3 separate regions of the Homo sapiens genome follow, and all the other regions are linked to region 1. The links come from fine-mapping of genetic effects on gene expression. A gene starts in region 1. Each other region holds a variant in brackets. All regions are shown on one strand. Distances are between the middles of the regions.

What was found. PIP is the estimated chance that this variant, and not a neighbour inherited with it, causes the effect.
Region 2: its variant is fine-mapped to the expression of TMEM9B in blood mononuclear cells (TOPMed, PIP 0.96).
Region 3: its variant is fine-mapped to the expression of TMEM9B in esophagus mucosa (GTEx, PIP 0.97).

The regions. Positions count from the first base shown.
Region 1 is chr11:8,963,002-8,965,764 of GRCh38, forward strand. TMEM9B (TMEM9 domain family member B) reads right to left here and starts at 1,441. Exons shown (of 5, transcript NM_020644.3): 1 at 1,208-1,441. The coding sequence starts at 1,312. TMEM9B-AS1 (TMEM9B antisense RNA 1) reads left to right here and starts at 1,674. Exons shown (of 5, transcript NR_073431.1): 1 at 1,674-2,147. RefSeq lists silencers at 905-1,094, 1,135-1,634.
Region 2 is chr11:9,012,114-9,014,876 of GRCh38, forward strand. All of the region lies in intron 1 of NRIP3-DT (NRIP3 divergent transcript), which reads left to right. Among named protein-coding and RNA genes, the nearest start is that of NRIP3-DT, 9.4 kb to the left of the region's middle. The variant G/A (reference allele first, on the strand shown) is at 1,300.
Region 3 is chr11:8,859,007-8,861,769 of GRCh38, forward strand. It overlaps a transcript of DENND2B not described here. Among named protein-coding and RNA genes, the nearest start is that of DENND2B, 50 kb to the left of the region's middle. The variant A/AAATG (reference allele first, on the strand shown) is at 1,327.

The sequences.
Region 1 (2,763 bases):
GCAACCACTTAGTGAGCATTTGCTCTGTGTTAGATCTTGTGCTCAATAAGGTGGATTCAGATAAGCATAAGACATGGTTTCTGCCCATAACCAGGACACACCCTAGTAAAGGAGACTGAAAAATAAATACATGATCACAATACATAAAGTTATGAGGCAAGATATGCAGAGGGTGCCAGCAATGTTTTCAAAGTCAGGAGACGTGCTGCTGTCCCTGTTTCTGGTAGGAGGTAGAGATGGTTTCAAAAAGAATCTCTGAATCAAAAACATTTGCCTGCCTGTAACCTTTCCCCACTCCTACATTTAAAGATATTATAAATTAAAGCTCTTATTTTTAAAAACGCAATGTCATTCTGTTTTCCCATCATACTAATGTGAATCCCTTCTGTTCTCCCCCAATGATGAGCTAGCTCATCAAAGAGGAAGCACAGGTATGCATGGAGCTAGGGCAGGTCTGGAGAGCTGGGGCACCAGAGAACAGTATGAGGGAACTAGAAGGTCAAGAAATCGAACCAGGGAGGCCACAACCTCACCTCTCTTGCAGTTTGGTTCTTCCCTTACCCACTAAATTATCAGGAAGAGAGAAAGCAAGAAAGGCACCAAGGGACTCGTGGAGGGAGTTAGGTGAGAATATGAAGCAGGTGAGAGATGCTCCGTAGGCCCTATTGGGAGGGAAGTAGGCCAGGAGGGGCAAGTTCCCACCACAGGAAGGGAAGTGTTCAGGGGTGAGCTGAGCTGAGTCGGCCCTTGACAGGGAAGGCTCTGTCAGATGGGGGCTTCCTATCATTCTGGCTTGGGGCATGCGGGGCCTGTGAGGCTGGCGGAGGGCGCAGGTGGGCTGTCAAGAGCTTAGGGTGGAAAGTTAAAGGCTCTCGGAGGTGAAAAGGTTGTCAAGTGTAAGATGCGTGCAGCCGGGGCTGGGAAGGGAAATGTTAAGGCGGTGGGGGGCTGCTGTCCGGACTGTGGGCACTGTCGGGGCTGGGGACGACCGTGGGGCGCTGCCTGCCAGGCTGTCGGGGCTGAGGGCGAGAGTGCCGCCGGGCAGTCGGGAGGGGCGGGGCTGGTGGCGGCGGGGGTCTGCCGGAGCTGTGAGGCCAGGCGTATGGCTGTCAGGAATGGGCCAAGGAGCAGGTTGGCAGACCCAGTTTCCGCAAGGCCGGTGGTAGGGGAGGAGCTTCCGTCAGGAGCGAGGCTGGGCGGGACTCACCTTGGCGGCGTCTGACAGCTGCGCCAGCAGCAGCACGGAAAGCGCCAGGCACGACAGGCTGAGCAAGGAGCCAAGCCGAAGAAGGCCTCCCCACAGGGTCGCCATCGCTGGGGGCCCAGCGGTCCCACAGCCCGGAGCCCCCGCGACCGGCTCCCGGCTCGGGCTCAGGCTCAGGCTCAGGCTCAGGCACAGGCTTGGGACCCGGCTGGGGATCCTCCGCCCGCACTTCCGTCTGGACGCGAAGGCGTCACCGGGCGCGCCGGGTCAGATGCAAAAAGCATCCGCCCCGGAACCGGTTACCAGTGCGAAGGGCCGGGAGGCTGGGCAGTCCTGGTGCCCGCCTTGGCCTAGCCCCGGCCCCGGGACGGAAGGGGGCCTCTGGGGTGGCAGCCTGGGCCCAGTAGAGCTTTGCATCTCTTGGATATCTTTCCCGGGCGCAGAAGCTGCGGGGCTTAGGGAGTCGCCATTGCGCTGGAAAGTCCTCCCGCCCACGGAGACCCCAGCAAACTCCGAGTGTCACACAGTCGCCTCTGGCGACCCGTGCGGGCCGGAGCCGTTCGCGCACAGGCAGGGCGGGTGCTGAGCGTGGAAACGGGGCTGGAATTGGCCGAGCCATGCCTTTCCGGGATGCCCACCGCCAGTCAAAGGGTTGGGGGTGGTCTCTGCACCTTAAGTACTAACCTGCCGCCCACGCGCCTCCTGACCACAGCACCCCGTCGGCTTTCTAATTCTGTGAGCTGCCCTCGTGGGCGTGGCCTCCCTGTGGAGCTCCCCATGTGCCTCCCCTTGGTCCAGCCTGCAGCTAGGAAGTGGGTCACAGCGACGGGGCTGGGCTGGGCCAGGCCAGGCTCCGGGAGATGTGGAATTGGCGAAACAACTGCCCCAGTAGTATCCTCCGCCTAGGACTCCAAGAGGTGGCGAATTGGGGCACTACGCCCGGGTAAGGCAGTGCCTGTTCAGGGCTGCCGACCTGTCTCCCCAGGGCTGTCATTCTCAGCAAGTACTTTAGGAGTGCCTTAGATCGGCACATTCTCCCATTGAAATATTTTTGTTAGTGGAGACAAGGGAGGTAATGGCAAGGACACGGATCATCACAGCCCCTAGGGATTTGTTGAATGACCTTTGGCAAATCACTTCCCTTCTCTGGGCCTGTAGTTCTTGGCTGAATATGAGGGAATGGATTTCAAATTATGCTCCATGTAATACCCGTGTTTTTACCTCTGTAAACAGATTTTTTTGTTTTTTTTGAGACGGAGTCTCGTTCTGTCCCCCGGGCTGGAGTGCAGTGGCGCGATCTCGGCTCACTGCAACCTCCGCCTCCCGGGTTGACGCCATTCTCCTGCCTCAGCCTCCCTAGTAGGTGGGACTACAGGCGCCCGCCACCACGCCGCCCGGCTAATTTTTTTTTTCTTTTTCTTTTTCTTTTTTTTTTTTTGTATTTTTAGTACAGACAGGGTCTCACTGTGTTAGCCAGGATGGTCTCGATCTCCTGACCTTGTGATCCGCCCGCCTCGGCCTCCCAAATTGCTGGGATTATAGGCGTGAGCCACCGCGCC
Region 2 (2,763 bases), 49 kb after region 1:
TAAGCTGTTTCCACTTTTAAGGTATTACGACTAATGTTGCTAAGAAATCTCATGTGGAAATCTTTTTGTGCCTTTTATTCATCTCCTGGAGTAGAATTGCTGGGTCACATGGTAGCCCGTGTGACTTTTGAGGAATTAACAGACTACTCTCCAAAGCAGCTGCACCATTCTGCATCTCCACCAGCAGTGTATGAGGGTTCCAATTTCTTCACATCCTCTTCAACACTTTTTACCATCTGTCTTTTTTATTATAGCCATGCTAGTGAGGTTGAGATGGTATCTCATTATGGTTCTGATTTGTGTTTCCCTGATGACTAATGATGTTAAGCATCTTTTCAGGTGCTTATTGGTCATTTGTTTGTCTTCTTTGGAAACATGTCTATTAAAATCCTCTGTCCATCTTCTTTTTTTTTTTTTTTTTTTTTGAGACAGAGTCTCGCTCTGTCGCCTAGGCTGGAGTGCAGTGGCGTGACCTCGGCTCACTGCAAGCTCCGCCCCCTGGGTTCACGGCATTCTCCTGCCTCAACCTCCCGAGTAGCTGGGACCACAGGTGCCCACCACCACGCCTGGCTAATTTTTTGTATTTTTAGTAGAGACAGGGTTTCACTGTATTAGCCAGGATGGTCTCAGTCTCCTGATCTCATGATCCACCTGCCTCGGCCTCCCAAAGTGCTGGGATTACAGGTGTGAGCCAACATGCCCAGCCTCCTCTGTCCATTTTTAATTGAGTGATTTGTCTCATTATTATTGACTTGTAAGAACTCTTTACATATTGTAGCTATTAGTCTCTTGTCAGATATATGATTTACAAACATTTTCTACCATTCCATGGGCTACCTTTTCACTTCTTAATAGTGTCTTTTGAAGCACACAAGCTTTAAAATTTCACTGATGTGCAAGTTGTTTTTCAACTTCCCTCCCCTTTTTAAAATAGAGCATTCTTCATTTTGTGTTTGTCTGCATTTTCCTTGTATTGAGATTGAGGTGATGCATTTTTGGCTTGAGTACAGTATAGGTGATGGTACGTTCTTCTCAGGCTATCACATCTGTAGGCACATGATATCCATCTGTCCTTTATTGGACATGCTAATTTTGATCATCTGGTCAAGGTATTGCCTGATTTCTCTGCTGTATAATTACTGGCTTTTTTCCTATCTCATTCATGATGTTTAAAAAAATGAAATTCACTCTTTTCAGTCTGTCTACACTCCGTTAGCACATTGCACTTTGAGTTCTGTACTCTCCCTGGCACATGCTGCACAGTGGTCAGACCCACCTTGGCCAGGCCTGTGTCCTCAT[G/A]TCTCAAAAAGGGGCTTTGTTTCAATGACCACAGGTTTCATGCAAATTATTCACACCTTGCCACAGTGAGTGTCTTCATTGACCTTGCCTGCCTAGAGACCTGAGTACTGCCTTCTTGGACTCTGAAGTTGGATGTTGCCATGCTGGAAACATCGAATAGAAATAGGCAGTTCTGGAAAACATGTGCTTCTGGGCTCAGCAAGGAGATGTACTGTGATCCTCACATACCAGGGGCTGAGGATTGGAACTCAGAAAAAATGAAGGATTGAGAGGCTGCGCTGTGTATGTGCACTTGTGTCTGTGCCGTCCCTGACCTAAGAGAAGCTCAGGCGATTGGAAGAGCTCATTTTACCTTCCCAGCTCAGGAGGACACGGGTGTTTGGAAGGCCTTGTGTGAGAACCCAAATCAGGCATCATAGCCTTTCATTCCTACTTCAAGCTTTAATTTTTCTGTTGCTAGGACATACCCCACTAGAAAAACTGTGACTAAAGAACTTTCCATCTCAGTGAAATGGGGAAACCCAGCAGAGAGTGAACCCCTTTAAAGAATGTTTCTTGGGTTTAACTTCTAAAGTCTCAAGAAGTGAAATGTAACGATGAGGATGACAGTTAACGTTTATTGGGCCCTTACTACATGCCAGGCAATGTTTCAAGAGTTTTCCAGGTATTAACTCATTTAATTCTCAAAACAGCTCTATCTTGTAGGTACTATCATTATCTTTATTTACCACATGAAGAAACTGAGGCACAGAGAAGTTAAATAACTTCCACAAGGTCACATAGCTAATAAGTGGCAGAACTGGGATACAAATCCAGGTACCGTAAAGGACATAATGGGAGTCTTGGAGAATATGAGCATTATGAATCATAAATCTTAGAGAAGGCACCTATCAGTGTGATAAATGTAGATAATGCATTTTCAGAGAAGTACATTAGGAATACTGGGCCCGGGGGGTACTGGGTGAGTGATGCTGTTTGAGTCATCCCAGTTCCTCATGGGGAGCCTTAGTGATGGTTTATCAAGCCTCTTTTTTTAAATTGTTTTGTTTTTTGTTTTTGAGACAGCATCTCACTCTGTTGCCAAGGCTGGAGTGCAGTGGCACGATCTCGGCTCACCGCAACCTCTGCTTCCCAGGCTCAAGCAATTCTCCTGCCTCAGCCTCTCGAGTAGCTGGGATTACAGGCATGCGCCACTACCGCCCGGCTAATTTTTGTATTTCTAGTAGATACAGGGTTTCACCATGTTGGCCAGCCTGGTCTTGAACTCCTGACCTCAAATGATCCACCCGCCTTGACATCCCAAAGTGCTGGGACTACAGGCATGAGCCACCGTGCCTGGCCCTATCAAACCTCTTATACTTGGCACCTGCATTACTTAAAACTCCAGTTTAGGTACCTGATGTGGCTGCTAAAAGCTGACTTCTTCAAGCCAAGTCACCTGGAAGTAACATTGGGGTTCCAATG
Region 3 (2,763 bases), 100 kb before region 1:
GAGACAAGAAACAGGCTGAAGACTGAGCCCTTGGGCGCTCCAAAAGCTCCAAAGGCCTCCATTTGGCCCAAGATTTGCCATAAGCCTGCACGTCCTAAACCTTGTCTGGGGCTCCAAACCCCCTGTATGTATCAATAACTCAAAATTTAGAGCTTGATGATGTACTGCTTTATATCATTCTTTAGGTAACAATTATATGTTCTAAGTTCAGGTTATCACTTTCCCTCAGTTGTATTGTATATCTACTACCAGGCTTGGCATAGGGTTAGATAAACACTAACGTGTTTTTTTGTTTGTTTGTTTGTTTGTTTGTTTTTTTGAGACAGAGTCTCCCTCTCTCGCCCAGGCTGGAGTGCAGTGGCGCGATCTCGGCTCACTGCAAGCTCCGCCTCCCGGGTTCACGCCATTCTCCTGCCTCAGCCTCCCGAGTAGCTGGGACTACAGGCGCCCGCCATCGCGCCCGGCTAATTTTTTGTATTTTTTAGTAGAGACGGGGTTTCACCATGTTAGCCAGGATGGTCTCAATCTCCTGACCTCGTGATCCACCCGCCTCGGCCTCCCAAAGTGCTGGGATTACAGGCGTGAGCCACCGCGCCCGGCCACGTGTTTTGCAAATACTCATTCATGGATTATATCATGTATATTTCAAAGAAATCAATGTAAGGCACTATACTTCCTTTTAAAACAAAGAACCATCTTCTCTTCAAGGAATAATGTGAATTATAAGTTATATCCTCAGCACTGCCCCACTACCCCCACTACCCTATCAGTCCCATCTTGGCAGAGACAGGCATGCTGACCAAAGAAGTTACACCATCTGCCATGCCATTTTCCCACCTGACTTCCTGTCCACATGCTTTGTGAACAAAGTTTTCTGTCTCTTCTTTCCTGGAAATTTCTCAAGCTGTAAAAACCTCCCATACCTAGCAACATGTCACACCTGCCCCTGTCCCCAGAATTCCCCATGGCCCTTAAAAAAGCCTAAACAATGAAGCCAAAATATTCCCAGAAAAACAGGAGCATCAAAACTTAGGAAGAAAAGAGGGAAAGAAAATGGGCATAACCCAAATAAACACCTAGAGAATCATCCAGCAGGGTTCTTCCCGCCAAGGTACAGGAATCTCAGTGCCTTCAACTAGTTACTATGAATATTTATAAAATGACCTTAGGAAGTCCTAGCCAGAACAATCAAGCAAGAGAAAGAAATAAAGGGCATCCAAATTGGAAAACAGGAAGTCAAACTATCTCTGTTTGCTAATGATATGATTGTACACTTAGAAAACCCTAAAAGATGCCTAGATCCTCCAAAAGACTCCTAGATTTGAT[A/AAATG]AATTCAGTAAAGTCTCAGGTTACAAAATCAACGTACACAAATCAGTAGCACTGCTATATACCAACAACCACCAAGATGAGAATCAAATCAATAACTCAATCCTTTTTAATACCTTCAAAAACAAATAAAATACCTAGTAATATACTTAACTAAGAAGGTGAAAGAGCACTACAAGGAGAACTACAAAACGCTGCTGAAAGAAACCACAGGTGACACAAACAAATAGAAATACACCCCATGCTCATGAAATCAAAGAATCAATATCATGAAAATGAGCATACTACCCAAAGCAATCTACAGATTCAATGCAATTCCTATCCAAATACTAACATCATTTTCGAAAATATTAGAAAAAACAATTCTAAAATTCATATGGAACCAAAAAGGAGCCCAAATAGCCAAAGCAATCCTGAGCAAAAAGAAGAAATCTGTAGACATCACGTTACCTGACTTATACTGCAAGGCTATAGTAACAAAACAGCAATGGTACTGGTATAAATGTAGATACACAGACCAGTGAAACAGAATAGAGAACCCAGAAATAAGCCAAATACTTACAACCAACTAACCTTCAACAAAGCAAACAAAAACATAAACTGGGAAAAGATACCCTATTCAATAAATGGTGCTGGGAAAACTGGCTAGCCACACGCAGAAGAATGAAACTGGATCCCTATCACTCACCATATACAAAAATTAACTCGAGATGGATCAAAGATTTAGATCTAAGACATGAAACCATAAAAATTCTAAAAGAAAACTTAGGAAAAACTCTTCTGGACATTGGGTGAGACAAAGAATTTATGACTAAGACCCCAAAAGCGAATGTAACAACAAAAATAAATAAATAAATGGGAACTAATTAAACTAAAAGGCTTCTGCACAGCAAAAGAAATAACCATTAAACAGACAACCCGCAGAATGGGAGAAAATATTTGCAAATTATGCATCTGACAAACAACAAATACCTAGAATCTGCAAGGAACTCAAATAATTCAGCAAGAAAAAAACACTCCCATCAAAAACCGAGCAAATGATATGAATAAACATTTCTGAAAAGAAGATATACAAATAGCCACGAAATATATGAAAAAAATGCTCAACATAACAAATCATCAGGGAGATGCAAATTAAAACCACAATGAAATACTCTACCTTACTCCAGCCAGACTAGCCATTACTAAAAAGTCAAAAAACAATAGATCTTGACATGGATGTGGTGAAAAGCAAATGCTTATACACTGCTGGTGGGAATATAAATTAGTACAACCTCTATGGAAAACAGTATGGAGATTTCTCAAATAACTAAAAATAGATCTACCATTCAATCCAGCAATTGCACTACTGGGTATCTACTCAAAGGATGAGTCATTATATCAAAAAGATACTTGCACAAATATGTTTATCGCAGCACAATTCACAACAGTAAAGATACG